Linked DNA regions of Homo sapiens: region 2 is linked to region 1. Evidence: fine-mapped expression QTL. A gene starts in region 1. The other region holds a variant in brackets. All regions are shown on one strand. Distances are from middle to middle.

What was found.
Region 2: its variant is fine-mapped to the expression of LINC01252 in sun-exposed skin (GTEx, PIP 0.98).

The regions. Positions count from the first base shown.
Region 1 is chr12:11,542,176-11,553,471 of GRCh38, reverse strand. LINC01252 (long intergenic non-protein coding RNA 1252) reads right to left here and starts at 5,442. Exons shown (of 8, transcript NR_033890.1): 1 at 5,112-5,442; 2 at 3,751-3,882; 3 at 779-892. The region is part of intron 2 of LOC124902877 (a long non-coding RNA gene); the gene reads left to right. It also overlaps the pseudogene RNU7-60P. RefSeq lists an enhancer at 8,907-8,966.
Region 2 is chr12:11,383,857-11,395,152 of GRCh38, reverse strand. It overlaps PRB2 (proline rich protein BstNI subfamily 2), which reads left to right. Exons shown (of 4, transcript NM_006248.4): 2 at 623-658; 3 at 1,176-2,359; 4 at 3,505-3,613. The coding sequence ends at 2,326. Among named protein-coding and RNA genes, the nearest start is that of PRB2, 6.1 kb to the left of the region's middle. The variant C/G (reference allele first, on the strand shown) is at 5,656.

The DNA.
Region 1 (11,296 bases):
TTTTACACCAAAGAGGCAACTGACACAATCAAGATAATGAACATGGCTGGGCAAGGTGGCTCACGCCTGTAATCCCAGTGCTTTGGGAGTCATAAGTGGGAGGATTTCCTTGAGACCAGGAGTTCAAGACCAGCCCCAGGCAACATAGTGAGACCTCATCTCCACCAAAAGAAAAAAAACAGCCAGGCATGGTGGGCTGAGCCTGTAGTCCCAGTTGCTTGGCAGGAAGATCCCGTGGGCCCTGGAGTTTGAGGATGCAGTGAGCTATGAGCTGGGTGACAGAGCATGACCCTGTCTCTAAAAAAGCAAAAAAAAAAAAAGGATATTCATATCCTCCCCACCAAGTTTCCTTGTTGTGCCCCCTTCGTAATCCTGACTCCTCTCTCCTCTGGCCCATCCCACTCAGACAACCAGTGACCTGCTTTCCGTCACTTTGGATGAGTTTGCATTTTCTAGGATACTTGTACATTTTTTTCATTTTGAAACAATTTCAAACTTATGGAAAAGTTGCAGGTGTAGTAGCACAAGAGCTTCCGTACACCTTTCATCCGGATTCCCCAGTTGTTAACATTTTACCATGTTTGTCTTCTTATTCTATCTACACATTTATACGTATTATTGCTCTTAAATTTTTCTGAACCAGGTGAGAACAGTTGCAAATATGATGCCCCATGAGCCTTTACTACTTTGGCATGTATTTCCTTAAAATGAGGACATTTCTATAACCAGAGTGCATCCATCAAGATCGGGACATTACATGGGGTGCGGTGGCACATGCCTGTAATTCCAGGTACTTGAGAGGCTGAGACAGGAGAATCGCTTGAACCCAGGAGGTGGAGGTTGCAGTGAGCCGGGATTGTACCACTGCACTCCAGTCTGGATGACAGGGACTCTGTTTCAAAAAAAAAAAAAAAAAAAAAAAAAAAGAGAAAGGAAAAAGAAATGAAAAAGATCAGGAATTTAACATTGATGTAATAAAGCCACAATCCGTAGACTCCATTCAGATTTCACCAATTTTACAATAACGTTCTTTATAATTCCAGAATCCAACCCAGGATCATGTGTTGTGTTTAGTCATTATATCTCTGTTAGTCTCCCTTAATCAGGAACATTTTCTCATTCTTTCCTTGTTTTTCATAACCTGGGTGTTTTTAAAGAGAACAGGCTAATTACTTCGTAGAATGTCCCTCAGTTTGGGTTTGTCTGATGTTACCTTATTGTCAGATTTGGGTGGTGCGTTTTTGGCAGGACGTTCACAGAAATGATGCTGTGTTTTCTCAGTTTGTTAGAGTAACTTAATATAGATTTATCCTGTTTATAGACAACATTATATGTTAGCACTCGATTAAGATGATATTGGCTAGGTTTCTATGCTATAGAGCTAACTAGTAAGTAATTTGTATTTCTAAACTACTAATAAGCACTAAATATTTTGGGGGAGATACTTTGAGATTGTATCCATTTCCTCATCAAATTTTCACCTACTAGCTTTTCCATCCAATGATGATTCTATCTAAATTAGTTATAACTATAATGGTTGCAAAATAATAATTTTCTGGCTGGGTGTGGTGGCTCATGCCTATTATCCCAGCACTTTGGGAGGCTGAGGTGGATTGTTTGAGCCCAGGAGTTGAGACCAGCCTGGGCAACATGATGAAACCTCATTTCTACAAAAAATACAAAAATAGCCGTGTGGTGGCACACGCCTGAAGTCCCAGCTACTTGGGAGGCTGAGGTGGGAGAATTGCTTGAGCCCAGCAGGTTGAGGCTGCAGTGAACTGTGACTGCACCACTGCACTCCAACCTGGGTGACAGAGCAAGACCCTGTCTCAAAATAATAACAATTTTCTAATTCCATAATTATATTTACATTGATTAGTTGGCATTTACTATAAGTTAGAGCTCTCTCTTCTCTCTCATATTTATTCATTCATGTATTATATAAGTATGGATTCATGAGATTTGATTTTTCAATGAATTATAATCAGTTACTATCATTTTTTATTTTGATCCACAAAATGACCTAGATGTGGACAACTGGAGCCCCATGAAGTTGGCTCCTGTGTTTATTTATTTATTTATTTATTTTGAGAGGAAGTCTCACTCTATTGCCCAGGCTGGAGCACAATGGTGTGATCTCGGCTCACTGCAAGCTCCACCTCCTGGGTTCACGCTATTGTCCTGTCTCAGCCTCCCGAGTAGCTGGGACTACAGGCGCCCGCCACCACACCTGGCTAATTTTTTTGTATTGTCAGTAGAGATGGGACTTCACCGTGTTACCCAGGATGGTCTGGATCTCCTGACCTTGTGATCCACCCGCCTTGGCCTCCCAAAGTGCTGGGATTACAGGCGTGAGCCACTCCTGTGTCCTTTAGACATGTCCTCATAATTATCTGAGGGCTTCCTTACTTTCAGTACAATAGAGTTCCAGGGTCATCTTGTTCTTTCCCTGCCCCAGCCCTGGTTCCTTTTAGTGGAAAAAGGTATTTAGAAACTGAGATCTAAATGCTAGGATGCTCATTGCAACTGGGGTGTCATTGCTCCTGGACTAGGAAATATAACACATTCATACATTTCTACTTCTCAATTTACCTGTCTATCCCTACCTATCTATCATCTGTCACATTCCTATCTTTAAAATCCATAACTTCGGACTAATGCCTTCAATTCCAATCCAGTATCACATTTTCCCCTTTGCATATTTGTAACTCCTTTCTTCAACAGTGAGAAATTGCATTCCCAGTCTCCTTGATACGTTGACTCATTCACTTGATCCTCCTGCATGTAAGCAATCTCCCAGCTGGGCCAGCCTTGTCCCCTTAGCCCCAGTGCCACCCATCACACCATTTGAGTGTTCCAACTCCAAAAGAAGGGAAGGCGAAATAGGAAATTATTTTTGCTCTTCTCTTCCCTATTCCTTATGTGTATATTATTATTTTCCCTTTTGGATATTGCTCACATCCATTTTCTCCTCTTCAGCTTTACTTCTGTGACTAGAATTCAGGCTTGAACAGGTGCTTCTGGTTTTGTTCCTGGTAATCTGTCCTGCACATAGCAGCCCAGATGATCTTTCACAACAAGAATATGACTATGTTATTTCTCTTTAAAGTCTCCAATGGCTCGTCATTTTCTACAAGGTTAAGTAAGCTCTCTAACTTACCCTGACCTGGCCTCTGTCCATACCTCCATTCTCATATTCATGCCTTCCTCCCTTGGACTATCAGTAGAAGTGAATTTTTGTAGTTGTCTGCATATACCATGTTCCATCACTACCATTTCAGTATGATGCTCCCTTGATTTATGAACCTCTTTCCCCAGTGCACCCTTAGAAATCCTGCTCAGGTGTCACTGTATCTAAGAAGCTTTTTTTGACACTTCTTTCCAACCATTAGTTGTTAATTATCCATACTAATTGGATTTCTTATACATAGTTTTATTATTGCCTATGTCACTCTCCACTATATTTGTTTACATGTCTGTCTTCTCTACTAGGTAACCAATTCAGAGGACAGGAATTGATTTTTGCCATTATAGTTTCAGTATCTAGCACAGTTTCTGCCATGTGTTATACACTTAATAAATACTTATTGAGGCTGGGCGCGGTGGCTCACGCCTGTAATCCCAGCACTTTGGGAGGCCGAGGTGGGTGGATCATGAGGTCAGGAGTTCGAGACCAGCCTGACGAACAATGGTGAAACCCTGTCTCTACTAAGAAAAATACAAAAATTAGCTGGGCATGGTGGCACTCACCTGTAATCCCAGCTGCTCAGGAGGCTGAAGCAGGAGAATCGCTTGAACCCGGGAGGCGGAGGTGCAGTGAGCCCAGGTGGAGTGATGATCGCGCCTCATCACTCCAGCCTGGGCGACAGAGCAAGACTCTGTCTGAAACAAAACAAAACAAAACACAACAAAAACTTATTGAACTGAAACATATATGTATGTGTCTGTGTGTATTTCTTTTTCTTTTCTTTTTGCCTTGGAAGAATGTGGAGAAACATCTGAAAAAGGAGCTGTTTTAAGATACCCAGTTTGTGATCATTTATTATGGCAGCCAAAGCAAATAAATACAGCATCAAGCTTATCAGAATCCACTTGCATCATGCTTGCTAATATCCCCATTGTCAAAGCTAGTCACAAGGCTAAGCCTGCTGTCACCATGAGAGGGGACTATACAAGGGCGTGCATTCTGAGAGGTGTGGTTCATTGGAGAAATCAAAGTAACAGTGTGCAGTGAGATTTATTAGATCATTTCATGTATCATAATAAAAGACATTGAATTTCTGATGAAGGATTTCGAATGTGGTAAAATAATTCAGTGGGAACCCAACGCAGTACCTTGAAAGAGAGTTACCTTGGGTCAAGTACAATAATTGGCACTCAGACCTGACACTTCCTTTTCAATAGACTAAATTCACCATGCAGCAATTATTGGAGCTAACAAAGTGTAATCTGTATTGGAAGAGAGTTATTGAAACCAGTATTTAAAAACATTATAGCAGAACTCTTCAAATAAATTCTTATATTAACACAGAAACAAGTATGGCAGAATACTCACGGTTATTTTATTTAAAGTTGGGTTTTTCGAGTACCCTCTATTTTCATGTATTTTGGGAAATTTTAGTAATGAAAGCAAATAGTGAAACAGAATTAAATATCCATTTTATAAAATACGACAAACAAGAGGAGAGCGGCTCTGAATTCCACCCCTGTGGAATTCAGGACTGCCATAGAGCGTATTTTCAAAACTGTTGATTTTGACAAGGCTGACTAGGAGATGCCCTAGAAGCCCCAGGTATGTGTTTCAGTATGATTCTGGCAACGCTGACTTAAAGCACTAAGTAGAATCAGTAGCCTACAGTGGATACTGCCCCATAAGGAGTGACGGGGGAAACGTTGCTGATTAAATAAATGGTCTTTTGAATTGGGCTGATGGTAGATGCTATAACTGAAGTTGCAAACCACACTGGGTTCGTTTGCTAGGGCTGCTGTAATAAATGACCACAAGCTGGGTATCTTAAAACAGCAGAAAGTTACTCTCTCACAGTTCCGGAGGCCAGAGGTCTGAGATCCGGGTGCTGGTGTGTCCGGAATCGGTGGGTTCTTGGTCTCACCGACTTCAAGAATGAAGCCGCGGACCCTCGCGTGAGTGTTACAGTTCTTAAAGGCGGCGTGTCCGGAGTTTGTTCCTTCTGATGTTCAGATGTGTTTGGAGTTTCTTCCTTCTGGTGGGTTCGTGGTCTCGCTGGCTTCAGGAGTGAAGCTGCAGACCTTCGCGGTGAGTGTTACAGCTCATAAAGGCAGTGTGAACCCAAAGAGTGAGCAGTAGCAAGAGTTATTGCAAAGAGCGAAAGGACAAAGCCTCCACAGTGTGGAAGGGGACCCGAGCGCGTTGCCACTGCTGGCTCGGGCAGCCTGCTTATATTCTCTTATCTGGCCCAACCCACATCCTGCTGATTGGTAGAGCCAATGGTCTGTTTTGACAGGGCGCTGATTGGTGCGTTTACAATCCCTGAGCTAGACACAAAGGTTCTCCACGTCCCCACCAAACTAGCTAGATACCGAGTGTCCACACAAAGGTTCTCCAAGTCCCCACCAGAGTAGCAAGATACAGAGTGTCCATTGGTGCATTCACAAACCCTGAGCTAGACACAGGGTGCTGATTGGTGTGTTTACAAACCTTGAGCTAGATACAGAGTGCCCATTGGTGTATTTACAATCCCTGAGCTACACATAAAGGTTCTCCACGTCCCCACCAGACTCAGGAGCCCAGCTGGCTTCACCCAGTGGATCCCCCACCGGGGCTGCAGGTGGAGCTGCCTGCCAGTGCGGTGCCGTGTGCCTGCACTCCTCAGCCCTTGGGTGGTCGATGGGACTGGGCTCCGCGGAGCAGGGGGTGGCGCTTGTCGGGGAGACTCCGGCTGCACAGGAGCCCACGGAGGTGGGGGAGGCTCAGGCATGGCGGGCTGCAGGTCCCGAGCCCTGCCCCGCGGGAAGGCAGCTAAAGCCTGGCGAGAAATTGAGCACAGCAGCTGCTGGCCCAGGTGATAAGCCCTTCACTGCTCGGGCTGGTGGGGCCGGCCTGCCGCTCCGAGTGCTGGGTCCGCCGAGCCCACGCCCACCCGGAACTCGCGCTGGCCCGGAAGCACCGCGCGCAGCCCCTGTTCCCGCCCGCGCCTCTCCCTCCACACCTCCCTGCAAGCTGAGGGAGCCGGCTCCGGCCTTGGCCAGCCCAGCAAGGGGCTCCCACAGTGCAGCGGTGGGCTAAAGGGCTCCTCAAGTGCCGCCAAAGTGGGAGCCCAGGCAGAGGAGGCGCCGAGAGCGAGCAGGGCTGTGAGGACTGCCAGCACGCTGTCACCTCTCACTGGCAGGGTTAGGTTTTTCTGGGGGCTGTGAGAGAGAAACCAGTCTGTGCGTCTCTTTGGCATTCCTGGGCATCCCTCCAGGCTCCGCCTGTGCTGTCACACTGAGTTCCCCCTGTGTGTCTGCTTTCTCCTCTTATAAGTGATATAGGAGTTAAGAAGAAATTATTTAGGCAGATAGTGAGGGTAAGGAAGTCCTCAGTAAGGTTTTCCTTTTAATGAAAAGCAGCCCTCAAATCGTTTTCTTTTCTTACAATGAGCAGCCTGTAAAATCAAGCTGCAGACATAGACAAGCAAGCTAGAAGCTTGCACGGGTGAATGCCAGCAGCTGTGCCAATAGGAAAAGGCCACCTGGGACTAGGCATGTCCAACTTCGTATACTTGGTCATCATTTCCTACATTCTCACACAGAAGAGAGCACTCAAAAAATAGTTTTGAGAATCATTTGCTAATGATTTAATACTATTATAAGGGAATAAAAGACTTTTCTTTTAAATGAGTGCTTAAAGGCGATTGGAAGCCCTGCTAAAGTTCAGGGGTGAATGCCTTATTATTTTTTTATATTTGGGGGCAAGGGCTTTCCAGTGAAGACTGGAAAACCTGCTAGACAGATTCTAAAAGAGCTGTAACACTGGGTGAATGCTGTAGAAGCACATAGTGTTAGTAAGGTGTGGGTCAGATACGGCTTTAGAGAATGTAGCAACTGAAAGCCCAGATGGGAAGCTCCGTAGGCAGCTGGATAAGCTAATATTTCTAAATAATATGTTCAGAGATTCGGACTGAATGCAATTGCAACCTTCTCCACCAGTCAGCAGTGAGTTCTGAAGTTACAGAAGTGTGATGAATTGCGGTCAATATGGGTTCTACCTTCACTTTGGAGTCAGTCAGTGACCTTAAAATACCTGCCCAGCTGAATTTTCTTAGAGTGCTTCATTTCCTGTGGGCCCTTTTACTCCAAATTCCAGATGATGGCTTTTAGTCTGTGGGGCCGCTTTAAGAGGCAGAAATCTGATCAGAACTACTAGAAGGCTGTGAAGGTGCTGCTGTGTGGACAGGCAGGGCAGAGTGCTCAAGGCTTTCCAATGCTCCTGCAATGGATCCTCCCTACCCAGCCCACAACCTGGCAGCTCAGGGGCCAACTGTTCTCTGTTGCTTTCTACTATCATGAACACAGGAAATGGGGGTGGGTAGCTTCTGGTTTCTGATTGAGGGAGTAGAAAGTGATGCTGCAGGGATCAAAAGCAGAGAAGCTTTTAAGCCATTTGAGAAACTGTGTCCGAAGGCAAGCGGATTTTAGCAGTAGCAGCAGCAGACCCCAGAAAAATTTGAAGAAGCATTAGTTTGTGCACTGTTAATGCCACTCTCTCATGAATGAAGAGAAGAAGGCAGGCCTAATGAAGGCTTTCCTAATGAAGGCTGAAGGCAGGCCGCTATTTGCCAAAGGTGCTGAGTGGCAGGGGGAGGAAGGGAAGGAAGCTGTGCAGTGTGTACTGCTTGCTTATCAGGAATCACGTCATTTCCTGTGTAAAGGGGCTGTGTGGTCTCCAGGGGCACTGGGAAGCCTTGGATGGCATGATTTCACCTTCTTCTTGCTCATCATTGAGGAGCTCTCATTAGTTAATGCTAGCCCTATTCATTTCATCATACATCTATTGTGTTCATACTGTGTTCTGAGCTCCGTGTTTAATCTTCGCAGGCTCATGAAGAGGAGTTAAGGATACTTTTGTCTTGAAAATGCTAACAGTCCCTCATGTGCTTGGGACCAGGGCTGCTGGAAAACCCACTAAGCAGCACACGGGAAACTAGAAAAGCAGAGGAACAAAGTTTTGGGGTTTTTGGGAGAGGGGGTGAAGAATGACATATTTTATTCCAAAAGCATAAAATATTTAATAGTGGAAACTATGAATGATACTGTTTAATTTTTAGGAGGCCAAAATATTTTAAGATTTATAAGTTTTAAGCTGGCCTTGGAGTGAGGGCAGAAAATATGTACACAAACAACTCTAATACAAGACTGAATGTGATGTATACCATAACAGAGCACCAAAGTAATAATGAATTGGGAGACAGAAGAACCACAATGTCTTTATAAAGTGGTATTTGAAGTGGACTTTGATGAACAGATAGGCAGGGTTGGAGTGCATGATCACTAAATCCATTCAAACCTTCTAACATTGACTTTTTATGGTGTGGGGGTGGGTGGGATGGGCACGGATTCTCCATGCAAAGGGACTATCTCGGGAACAGACAGTCACGGGGGCGGGGGGACTAAGCTTTCCAGTGTGCCTGGAGAAAAAGGCACATGTGAGGTCATGGATCTCAGGGCCCAGGCTAGTCTAGTTTGGCTGTAGCAGGAAGTGTTCCTCACTCTGCTCAGACCCAGGTACTGCTTCAAACCAGAAAGTCTGGAGAGTGGGCTCCTTCCTCCCCTAATGGGGCAATTTGCCCAAGGACAAAGTCCAGGCTTGCTCCTCCGTATCAGACCCTGCTCTGGGTAGAGGGAAACCACCACATGCTTTCTTGTTTGATGTGCTGAGTGCTCAACTGAGCTGTCTGTGCCCCTACACTGCTTCTGTATACTTAGAGTCAACCTTTAGAGGATGATATTTCAACATTCTGCATGGAGTTTTCTCTGTAAAGTACAATGAGTTTGTGACTGACCAGAACTACAGACATTCCCTTTTGTTTGTGAGCTGCATGACCAATGTGTTTGGCCTCATTAAAAATGAACTGGGCAAGCTGGGCATGGTAGCAACTCAGGAGGCTGAGGTGGGAGTCTCACTGAGCTCAGGAGTTCGAGTCCAGCCTGGGCAACATAGCGAGACCCTGTCTCTAAAAAATATAATAATATAAAATTTTGAAATAAGAATGAACTGGTCAAATAGGAAAGTTTTCAAGGACATCAACTGGTCTTTTCTTGCACAGAGGAGATTCGCAGGATGAAAATACTCTGAGGCTTCTTCCCACTGCAGGGCACAGACCCGAGTTAAGTGTGGCCTGGCCCTCAGCACTTCCCAGGTGCCCTTGGTGCATCCTGGTGCTGACCTGTGCCCCTCCACACTCCTGCTGTGCAGCTCCTGCTACCCTACAGGAACCTGCTCCTGAATAATCCCTGTGTCTCCTCTCTGTGCTCTTATGAGTCACCGAAACTCGCTTGTGAATTTTATTCACAGGGTTTTGACGGCTTCTTTCTATCCAAATTTATTTCCTCCTTGACCTCATTCCTTCTGTCTTGTTGCCATCACCAGTGAAAGCTAATATTATTTACATAGGGAAATGCATAGTGGATGGAAGGATACAGTTCTAGGAGTCACATGACCAGCCAAAAAAAGTTCTGCGTAGACACACACACACACACACACACACACACGTATAAACATATCATAACAAACTTAGCAGCTTGAAGATGAAGATTAATAGTGTTACTGTTTAAGGATCTCAAAGATAAAACATTTGCAAATTTAAAGCACACTTACACATGTATTCCTCTTGAGGACTTGGAAACACAGTTTTGCAGAATAACTCTGGCTGCCAGCTAGCACGGGAAGAGAAGTGTTAAGTGTTGAAAACTGTTAACTGTTCATGGACCAGTATAAATTGAGTCATAGGGGTGAGGTGTTTTTATGTTTGCTATATTTCCTATTTCCACTACTTTCCTGAATAAGTACATTTACTCTGGGTTAATTTTTGAAATAATTTTGAAATTATTCAAAACATTGTTGTGTGTATATGCAAAGACTAGGGAAAAGAAGCTTGGATTGGTAGCAAAAAGCCAACTGTGACTTTGAGCAAATTATTTGACCTCTCTCAATATATCTTTTCTTATTTTAAAATAAGGAGGTTGAACTATATCATTTCTATGCTTTCTTTCATTGTTAGCAATCCACGAATAATGGAACACTGCACAGAATAGTAAACACTGGGTTAAGATCCAGTATTGGCTCGAATCCTTATAACTGTGTGATCTGAATACAGTAATTTCTTCTCCCTGGGCCTTACTTTCTTCATCTGAAAAATTACAGGATTGGCCTCTATCTTCCTTATTGTCTCTTCAGACTCTCATGTTTTGTAGTTTTCCTCAGTTATGGTAGAAATCTCATCCTTCTCTTCTTAACATTTAGTCCTGTGCTCCAGGGAAAGAGGAGGGAGTTGGGAGAGGCCTGATATAATCATTAATTTTCTCCGTCTTTCTCTTTGTTTTGTTTTAACTCTCTTTCTCCTTCCCCCTCCCCACCTTCTCCTCCATTTTTTTTTTTCTAGAACACTGAGAAAGTTTCCTCATAGTCTACTTGGCAGTTGCAGCTGTCCCTAGAATGAGTCCTGAAACCTAGATCTGAGTTGCGGTAGAAAGCCTATTACTTCCTTGCTTGTTTGAAGACAGCCTACTGTAAGCCCTATGGCTTGGAGGTGACCAGGCTCTCCAGGAGATCAACACTTCGAGCCCTGTATGTTTAAGGAATAGTTTTGACTTAGAGTGATAGAGAACACCTAAAGAGACCATGGCTTTTAAAAATAGAAGTTTCTGAGTGTGGTGGTTAATGCCTGTAATCTGGGTACTTTAGGAAGCTGAGACAGGCAGATTGCTCGAGCCCAGGAGTTCAAGACCAGCCTCAACAACATAGTGAGACCCCATCTCTACAAAAAATACACAAATTAGCTGGGCATGGTAGTGCACACCTGCAATCCCAGCTACTCAGGAGGCTAAGGTGGGAGGATCACATGATCCTGGGAGGTTGAGGCCACAGTGAGCTGAGATTGTGCCACTACACTCCAACCTCAGTGAGAGAGTGAGAGCTTATCTGAAAGAAAGAAAGAAAGAAAGAAAGAAAGAAAGAAAGAAAGAAAGAAAGAAAGAAAGAAAGAAAAGAAGGAAGGGAGGGAGGGAGAGAGGGAGGGAAGGGGCTAAAAACAGTTAAGTATTATAAAGCGAGCATCAG
Region 2 (11,296 bases), 160 kb after region 1:
AAACTGATCTCAGTAAGTACACAGGGATGATGGTGGCCTTGCTGTACAGTGCATCAGCATCGATGACGGCGATAGACACACACAGTATCAGAGATACTGCAGAGACAGAGAATTGGATGGAACACTTGTCTCTGTTTAACTAGAGATACAGAAATATCAGAGCCAATCATTGTCATTTTTCTCTCCCTTACACGCAGTATTTCAATGTGCTGGGAGTGGTATGGGTAAGATTGTATTGAAATGATTACTTCTGGTTACCCCAATTGAGAAAGCATGTGTACATAAGCAATGTATTTATAGGAGATGGAGGGCATAAGAACACCAAAATATCACATTGAAGTACCTGGCATTTGTGAACTAAATTAGCATTAAGTCTTGAGGGATGCTAGGGAGGGAAAAAAGGGGCTCTTCTATGTTGAGTTCATGGCTGTTGCTCTGTCATAACAACCCTGCCTCCCCTTACACCTTCCTCCCCTTCCAGCAGCTTCACAGATGGTGGCTGATGAGTTAACTTAGGGGATGCATGGGGTGTGGTGAGAAGTCTGTTTTCCCTGTAGAACACTTGTGAGTCTTGTAAGGTTCAAGATGTAACTGTTCCCATCATCCTGTGCTTCTCTTCTAGATGTCAGCCAGGAAGAATCTCCCTCCCTAATAGCAGGTAAATCCCGATTCATTCTCAATCTGTTCTGACTGTCTTTTTCTGCTTATGAATGGATCAGTTCTCCAGTGTCTTCTTATCAAAACTTTCCTTTCGGGAATTGATTAATGTTAGTGCTCCTAATAATATAGGCACTCTTCATGCAACCTTGATTCTGGGCATCATGAGCAGGCCACCAAATTGAACGGCAGAGATGCTTGGCTTAGATGACAGCAGGAGTGGGTTACCTCATCCCCCTGGCCAGGAGTGCCTGCTGGGAGATGACAGACAAATGGGCAGCATCCTCATTCTGTCTCCTCTTTATAATGAGAGGCCCTCAACTGCTTTGTTCTTCCCTGGCGCTCCACTCCAGAGTTCTATGTCTTCACTGAAATGCAAAGAAATTAATGTCTTGGTCTCATTTTTGTGTGTTTCCCCACTCAGCTTGTTACCCAAACTGATAAAAATTTACTGCAACTATTCAGGGAATCTTGTATGGGCTTTTACTCTGTCTTTCTCTTCTCTCTTTGTTCTCCAGGAAATCCACAAGGAGCACCCCCACAAGGAGGCAACAAACCTCAAGGTCCCCCATCTCCTCCAGGAAAGCCACAAGGACCACCCCCACAAGGAGGCAACCAGCCTCAAGGTCCCCCACCTCCTCCAGGAAAGCCACAAGGACCACCCCCACAAGGAGGCAACAAACCTCAAGGTCCCCCACCTCCAGGAAAGCCACAAGGACCACCCCCACAAGGAGACAAGTCCCGAAGTCCCCGATCTCCTCCAGGAAAGCCACAAGGACCACCCCCACAAGGAGGCAACCAGCCTCAAGGTCCTCCACCTCCTCCAGGAAAGCCACAAGGACCACCCCCACAAGGAGGCAACAAACCTCAAGGTCCCCCACCTCCAGGAAAGCCACAAGGACCACCCCCACAAGGAGACAACAAGTCCCGAAGTTCTCGATCTCCTCCAGGAAAGCCACAAGGACCACCCCCACAAGGAGGCAACCAGCCCCAAGGTCCCCCACCTCCTCCAGGAAAGCCACAAGGACCACCCCCACAAGGAGGCAACAAACCTCAAGGTCCCCCACCTCCAGGAAAGCCACAAGGACCACCCCCACAAGGAGACAACAAGTCCCAAAGTGCCCGATCTCCTCCAGGAAAGCCACAAGGACCACCCCCACAAGGAGGCAACCAGCCCCAAGGTCCCCCACCTCCTCCAGGAAAGCCACAAGGACCACCCCCACAAGGAGGCAACAAACCTCAAGGTCCCCCACCTCCAGGAAAGCCACAAGGACCACCCCCACAAGGAGGCAGCAAGTCCCGAAGTTCTCGATCTCCTCCAGGAAAGCCACAAGGACCACCCCCACAAGGAGGCAACCAGCCTCAAGGTCCCCCACCTCCTCCAGGAAAGCCACAAGGACCACCCCCACAAGGAGGCAACAAACCTCAAGGTCCCCCACCTCCAGGAAAGCCACAAGGACCACCCCCACAAGGAGGCAGCAAGTCCCGAAGTGCCCGATCTCCTCCAGGAAAGCCACAAGGACCACCCCAACAAGAAGGCAACAATCCTCAAGGTCCCCCACCTCCAGCAGGAGGCAATCCCCAGCAGCCTCAGGCACCTCCTGCTGGACAGCCCCAGGGACCACCACGCCCTCCTCAAGGGGGCAGACCTTCCAGACCTCCCCAGTGACAGCCTCCCCAGTCATCTAGGATTCAATGACAGGTATGATTCCAGTTTATTCTTCACCAAGTGCTCTAATTGCTACAGCTCTCCAGCTTTATTGTGCCAATGAATCAGCTAAAAGCCCATTGGCATTGTATAGTCCCAGATCCCATTTCTAAAGATTTGTATTGACATATTCTGGAAATGGGTAACAAGATCCTATATTTGTAACAAACTCTTTAAGGAATTCTGATGTTGAGAAACAAAATTCCAAATAATCTGTCTTAAGTTGTGTTGGCAACAAGGAAGTAGTACCATGTTCTCTCTGGCGCTCTGTTTTCTGTGCACAAACTGAGAGACCTCCCATTTAAAGTTTTCACCTGAGCACTGTTTGCTCAGTCCTGCCTCACACCAGCCTCTTGAGTCCAGTATTCCTGCCAAGTGGTCCCTGAACTTTCAGCAGCTAAATGGTGTCTCATTTTTCAAATTCTTACTGTTCAATAAGTACATGATTAAGCTAACAAAAAATATCTAATGCAATGGAAAAATATGAATCTAAATTTAAAGGCATGACTCATCCTACCTGCCTCCCCTCCTTCAGAAAACTGCCACTGTTAACTTTATGGCATCTTCTGTTTGAAATATTTATGTGTACATAGACTACTAGAATATTTTTCCCCCAGAACTAATACCATAATTTATATTCAGGTACATATGTTAGTCATTTAAAAAATACATTTCTTTGAAAATTTCCACATACGTCTATGAAGCTAAGTAGATCTCTTCAGTGGTTATCTGTTTGTTTTTACCATTTTATACTACTCCATTATGTGGCTGCACCGTGATTTCTTTAACCAATCTGTGTCACTGGACACTGAGGGTGGTTTCAGCTTCTCACTGTTATAAAATATGTTCCAGTTCCCATCTGTGTAAATATATCTGTGAACAAATTCAGCAGCAAGTAATAATAAGCTAAGAATGATCTTCTGTCTTCATCACGTAAGGAACAATTTGGAGCACATTTTGTGCAAGGGCATCCAAAGAGTGAACACACAAAAAATTAGGGAGGAAACACAGGAGGTAGAAGGGATAGGGGGAGAGAGGATGGGCTCTCATGTACTGTAGTGCAGTAAGACCAGTGAGGAATTCGACATTTCCTGCCATGTCAAGTCTGGTCTATGAACTTCCTTGTTTGTTTGTTTCAGGAAGTGAATAAGAAGATGAGAGTGATTCAAATGATTCAAATGCCATGACATTGGAAAAAGGTCATCATAGCTCTAACTTCTGTATACCAATAAAATAATTAGCTTGCAATTTCTGATTGTGGTGTCTGTTTCTCAATATTTGTGAATGTGGGATCTGAGGACCAAGAGAAGACATTACACGAATATCTAGGAACCCTTTTCCTTGATGCTCCGGGAAGTTTCCCTCCTCCTTAATCCTAATTTAGCCAGCTGCCATGCAAAAAGGTTTTACTGTTTCTCTACTTCCCTGACTTCTATTTTTTTTCCTCCAAGATGGAGCTTTTTTCACCCAGGCTGGAGTGCAGTGGCACGATCTCGGCTCACTGCCTTCTGCATCTCCTGGGTTCAAGCTATTCTCCTGCCTCAGCCTTCTAAGTATCTGTGATTATAGATGCCCACCATCATGCACAGCTAATTTTTGTATTTTTAGTAGAAACGGGGTTTCACCATGTTGGCCAGGCTAGTCTCCAACTCCTGACCTCAGGTGATCCGCTTTCCTCGGCCTCTGAAACTTCCAGGATTATAGGTGCGAGCCACCATGCCTGGCCCTTCCATGACTTCTACAGCATAAATTGAAATTTTAAAATTATTTTCTGATTGTTTACTGATATTCCAGTGATCTTAAGGACAGAAAACACAACAAATGCAAAAAAGTCACAGAAGCTGAAAGAGATCCTTATAATTTCTAAGAAGCTGAGTTTGGTTTCAAGGGAATGAATATGGGTCTATGCTTCTTATCCCCAGAACCCTCTCTATCTCATTGACCCTATTTTAACAGTGATCACTTCTCTCCCTTCCTATTTTCCTCATCTTTCTTCAACGAAACCTGAATGGACTTCATTAAAGAGACAGCATGATTTTAAGAAGCAAAAATTTTGGACACTCTCAGGTTTTAATTAAGACCTAACTGTTTTTCTTACTATCTCTGGAGTCTTAAAAGTTTACTTAGACTCTCAGGGCTTCAAATTCCTCATCTAAAATGAGAATAATCATAACAACTACCTTAGAGTATGGAAACTAATGAGATAACATATATACCAAAAACATTGCAGAGACTGGCATGTCTGCTTCTCAAGCAAGGAAGGTTCAATATTAGAAAACTGCCCCTGTGCCCACCGATAGCCTCAGATAATTCACTAAGAAGTCGGAAAAATCCGAACAGAATGATCTCACCATAACCACCACTAAGTTGAGCAACCCAGTTGCAGCCCTGGTCTCTGGCTTCTCTCCTATTATCATAGGTGAAGCATTCCTACCCCTATCTCTCACCTTCCCACTTGATTCTGAACCACATTGCCCAATCAAGGATTTTGCTTCTGCATGTGACCCTTTTGTCTTGTGATTGTTACATCTATGCTCTATGGGATTACTTCAATCAGCAAAAGCCTGCTGAAACATCACCCATTTCCACAGAAGTCTTCCTAAGACTCTTAGTGCTTCTTTCCCACCATATTATTTGCCTGCCATTTTTATTGGAAAAGTTCTTGAAACGTATGTATGTGATTATTTCCCCATTCCCCCACCTCCAAATTTTTCATATGTACACGTTATAGATGCTTTTGTTCTTTTCACTTCAAGTCTGTAAAGATCATCTACTGCCTCCATTCTACTCATTTCAGGAATCAACTCTCAGTCCCGCATCTCCTGTGACCCCTCAGCAGTTTAACACCACTGATCCTACCCTTCTTTTGGGAACACTCTATCAATCTTTCCAGGAGCCTCCCCCTCTCTCCTAGGGTTTCTCCTATCTCTGCCTCTTCCCTCCTACAGCTACAAAGTTCTTCCTCTTCCAGCTCTTTTTGGTCTTGGTAAAGAATTCATTTAATTAATTAAGCAAACTAGGATTTATTCTTGACTCTTCTCTTTTCCTCTTTCATCACATTACATCTAGTCAAATCAGCTATGTTATCTTTGTGACGTTCAAGCTTCAAAATAATTTCCTACTGCAGCCAGTTTCATCACTTTCATCTCTATCAGCCCCTCTAAGCAAGCCTCACCTGCAGTTTACACCAAATAGTTCTATTTATTTCCCAACAGTCAATTACCCACCTTGGCCATTTAAAAATTATATTACTTTTCTATGTTTTCCAGTTGATTGCCACCACTTTTACT[C/G]TATAAGAACCAGACAGTATTTTTTTTTTTTAGACAGAGTCTTCCTCTGTTTCCCAGGCTGGAGTGCAGTGGCAAGTTCTCAGCTCACTACAACCTCTGCCTCCTGGGTTCAAGTGATTCTACTGCCTCAGCCTCCTGAATAGCTGGGATTACAGGTGTGCGCAACCACACCCAGCTAAATTTTTGTATTTTTAGTTGAGTAGGGGTTTCACTAAGTTAGCCAGGCTTGTCTTGAACTCCTGACCTTGGGAACCACCTGCCTCATACTCCCACAGCACTGGGATTACAGAGGTGAGCCAGTGCGCCCACCTGCTAATTTTTACCTATGCTAAAGTCCGATGTATTCAGTCCTAACTCTCTGTGGAATTGGGGGATGCTCTACACCTAATTCATTCTGCTATGGCCACGCTGGTCATTGTCTTTTTTTTATGGTGGGGTATGGAAGCAGTATGCTTAGATTTTCTGTTAATTAAAAAAATATTTTTGAACAAATACAAGTTTTGATTTTGTTACATAGATTACATAGTACTTAAGTCACAGCATTAGGGTATTCCTCACTCAAATAACAAACACTACATTTATTAATACCTCACTATACAACCGCTCTGCCTCCCATACTCCCAAGTGTTCTTTGTCTATCATTTCACTCTCTACATCCATGCAGACACATTCTTTAGCAACCACTTAACAGTGAGAACGTGTTATATTTGATTTTCTGTATCTAGCCTCTTTGGCTTAAGAAAATGACTCCCAGTTCCATCCATATTGTCACAATATGTGTGATTTCATTCTCTCTTTGTAATTGAGTAGTATGGTATTGTGTATATATATTTACATTTTTTAATCCAATCATTCATTGACAGATACATTGGTAGATTCAATATCTTTGTTACTGTGAATGTTGCTACAATAAACATACAGATAAATGTATATATTTGATACATTGACTACTTTTCCTTTGAGGAGATACCCAGTAGTAGGATTGCTCAATGGAAATGTAGTTCTAGTTTTAGTTCTTTGAGAAATCATACTGTTTTCCATAGAAGCTGTACTAATGTATATTCTCACCAAGGGTGTTTAAGAGTTCTCCTTTCTCCCTATCCTTGCCAACAGCTGTTATTTTTCACCCTTTTAATAATAGTCATTATGACTGAGGTAAGATGATATCTCATTGTGGTTTTCATTCACATTACTCTAATGATTAGAGATGTTGAACATGTTTTCATTTACTGTTGGCTGTTTGTATGTATTCTTTTGAAACACATCTATTCATGTCCTTTGTCTATTTTTAATTGATTTTTTGTTGTTGTTGCTGAGTAGTTTGAGTTCCTTGTATACTCTGCATATTAGTTCCCTGTATGATGCATAGTTTACAAATATTTTCCCTCTGCATGTTGCCTGTTGACACTGTTGATTTATTTTGCTTGTAAAATATTTTAGATAAATTAAGTGCCATTTGTCCAATTTGATTTTTGTTGCCTGTGCTTTGACGTCTTAGTCATAAGTTCTTTTCTCAGCCAATGTCCAGAAGTTTTCTTCTTGTATTAATATATGCCCACATTTTACATTTAAGTCTTTAATCCATCCTGAGTTATTTTTCTATATGAGAGATGTGAGAGATAGTGTTCCAGTTTCATTCTTCTGCATATGGCAATCCAATTTTCTCAGCATCATTTATTGAAATGAGTGATGTTTCCCAAGTGTGCGTTCTTGTCTGCTTTGTCAAAGATCAGTTGCCTGCAAATATGTTGCTTTATTTCTGGATCTTTTACTCTGTTCCATTGATCTATGTGCCTATTTTTAGACCAGTCATATCCTGTTTTCATTACTGCAGTCTTGTCGTATAATTTGAATTCAGGCAATGCGACACTTCCAAATTTGTTTATTTTGCCTAGGATTGCTTTGGGTCTTTTGGCTCTTATGTTTTCCTTCTGTAAGTAATGTTGGATTATTTTTTACCAATTCTGTGAAAAATGACATTGATATTTTGATAAAGATTGAATCTGTTGATTTCTTTGGACACTACAGTTGGCCTTGTTAACATTCTTTCAACATACTAAGTTTGTTCCTAACTTTATCAAGCATGTGTTTGCATTTTATTCAAGTATGCTCACATCTTCCCACATTAAAGTCTTCTTTGAATACACAGAACCCCTTATTCTCTTAAACTTTCTTTAATGATTTATCAAATCATTGTCACTTTGAGATAGTCATATGCAATATTCCTACTATCTAATATTAGCACTCTTATGTAGTCCCCACCACATTATATCAGGATTGGTTTCTGTGACCAGCAAAATATGGCAGAAATGGTGGTATGTTACCACTGAGATTAAGTTAAAATTGAAACTGTGGCTTCATCTTTTATTTTTCAATTCGCCCCTTCTCTCTGTCTCTTTCTCTTCCTCTGTCTCCTTCTCTCAGACAGCACTTGCACTGGGAACACCCAGCTGCCATGTGAAGCAGCTCTATGGAGTGAATCTCTAAACATCTCTCCCCTTGGGGGCAACAGAGGAGTAGACACCTACAGAGAAGAAGGAAAAGTCTCCCACCTCCAATTCTTCAGTCTGCACCTGACCTCTATAACAAGCTCACTGTTCTAGAGTTGATTTCTATATGGAGACCAGAGTGGTGAGTGACAGGCATGGTTCTTCTGCCTCCTACTTAGCCTTGCTAGAAAGTCAGATGACAGCTCCAACTACTGAGGTCCCTTCACTAGTGATTTTTTTTCCTTTTTTTTAGAATGAGGAGGCTTTCTTTGTGTTGTGTTCATGATTGTTCTCTACTGTCACCAATGTCAACACTACTCTGTGCCTGAATTTACATGTTAATTACATTTATCTTTCTGTCCTTGCAAAACTTACATGCCCAACAACAAATTTAGTAATTACCTGTTTTCTCAATCATTTGCTTTGTTTTAAAAACATCTAAGTCTTCCTTCAACTTCCAACGGACCTGCAAAATCCCACCTAGCACAATTTTCCTCACTCTCAAATGTCAGATAATTGGCTTTTGTCCTGGAAATTCCCATTTCTCCCTTTTAAGTAGGATAATGCATATCCTGAGTTACTGTCTTCCTGTTTCTTGGTTTTCTTCTTCTGTGAAACATATGCTAGCATAGCTTCAGCATATGAGAAGTAAACTATTTCAAGGTTTTTCGTGTTGCCAGATGTGTTATGTGACCTTCACACTTAAGTGATTACCTGAATGGATATAGGATTCTAGTTTGATTGCTATTTTTACCTAGAGTTTTTAAACCTTTATTCCACCACAGCAACAAGGAACCATCTTGGAAGCAAACAGAAGCCCTCACCAAACACTGAATCTGTTGATGCCTTAATCTTAGACTTCCTAGCCTACGGAACATTGGGAAACAAATTTCTATTCTTTAATCATGACCCAGTCTACAGTCTTGTTGTTACAGTAGAAATGGACTAACACACAACCCCATCTGAGGTCTAATTAGTAAACATACATCTAAAAGCAAAACCAAAAGAAACAACAGCAAAAAAACACGGTTGGGCTGTCTTCTGACTTCTATTTTTCCATGTAGTTTCTGATACTCAATATCTTCTCTATGACTGCTTTTTCAGGGCATGTTTTACCTTACCCATTATCTATCACTTGTATCTGAGTTTATTTTCTGGACCTGGTTTCTTCTGACGTTCTTGGAAGTGAATAAATGTAGAAGTAAATAGCAAGAAAGTGGTGGAGTACAGTAAGCAAGAACATAGGCTCTGATGACTGACTGCCATCTCTACCACTTATTACTATTTTAGCAACTTTGGCTTGTGCCCACTCAGCTCACCTATAAAATTGAGATGGTAGTATGCAGGATTCTTACCTGATAAGCTGGTTCTGAAGATTAAATGGCATACAGTAAATGCTTAAGAAATATTTTTACTATAATCAGCCATGGCTACAATATGTTCATAGAATATGAATACCGCAAAATAATTGTGAAATATGTGTTTTTAAGACAAAACATAATATAAAAATATATGAACCAGTATCATAATTGTGTAACCAGGATTCCTCTGATACACATGAACCCCTCCCAGACCATAGGGACTTCATGCAATTTACTCGATCACATCACAAGTCCATCCACTCTGTTAATGTTCATCTCTCCTGGTAGACAACCCTCTTGTGTTGCAGTCAAGCTAGTTCAAGATGAAGTTGAGGAAGATTCTGCTTTCTGTCCTATTCAAAGAATCACCCACTTTTCAATAAAGAGAAAGTCATATAGGTATGAAGGAGCTGGCATATGAAATCCAAATCTGATTACCAGTGTAATAAAAAACTGTGATGGATGTGATGTACAAATGCGATATGGTCTAATTTTCTTTTCTTTTTTTATTATACTTTAAGTTCTAGGGTATATGTGCACAGGGTTTGTTACATATGTATACATGTGCCATGTTGGTGTGCTGCACCTATTAACTCATCATTTCCATTGGGTATATCTCCTAATGTTATCCCTCCCCCCTCCCCCCAACCCATGGCAGGCCCCAGTGTGTGATGTTCCCCTTCCTGTGTCCAAGTTTTCTCATTGTTCAATTCCCACCTATGAGTGAGAACATGCAGTGTTTGGTTTTTTGTCCCCGTGATACTTTGCTGAGAATGATGGTTTCCAGCTTCATCCATGTCCCTACAAAGGACATGAACTCATCATTTTTTATGGCTGCATAGTATTCCATGGTGTGTGTGTGCCACGTTTTCTTAATCCAGTCTATCATTGATGGACATTTGGGTTGGTTCCAAGTCTTTGCTATCGTGAATAGTGCCGCAATAAACATACGTGTGCATGTGTCTTTATAGCAGCATGATTTATAATCCTTTGGGTATATACCCAGTAATGGGATTGCTGGGTCAAATGGTATTTCTAGTTCTAGATCCTTGAAGAATCACCACACTGTCTTCCACAGTGGTTGAACCAGTTTACAGTCTCACCAACGTGTAAAAGTGTTCCTATTTCTCCATTATTATTATTAAAGTATAATAATAAAAAAGATAAAGATCTTGACATTAAAAAAAAAGAAGTGTTGAAATGATGGTGAAGGTGAACCTTGCAGCAGTAGTCCCTTCACATTAACTTACGGACAAAAATTGTATCTTCTTGTGGCCTAATTGAAGAGGTCTGACAATCAACAGCAGAAAAAAGAGCTAGCACAAGAAGAACAATTGATTCAGATTACATAATTTTTTCTGTCTAAAAAACTAAATACGAACAAACTAGCCACTTGATGAGGGCCAAAACTGCTGTACCTGTCAGCTACAGACAAGAAGAGAACGTTCTGTGACAAATTAAACAAGTAGGAAGGAAAAGAAAAGAAAAAAAAATCCTAAAGCATTTCTTTGAAGAGTTGTAACAGGAAATAAAACATGGCTTTACCAGTGGCATTCAAAGGGACAAACACAATGAAAGCAATGGCTACCAAGAGGTGGAAGTGGTCTAGTCTAAGTAAATGCAACAAAAGCAAATATCATGCCAACAGTGTTTTTGGATGCTAAAGGTTTTCTGGTTGTTAACTTTCTGGAGGGCCAAAGAATGGTAAAAACCACTTATGAGACAGTTTGGAGTTTGGAGAGATTTAGTCAAATCTTTAGCAGAAAAATGGATGAGATTGGATGCCTAGGG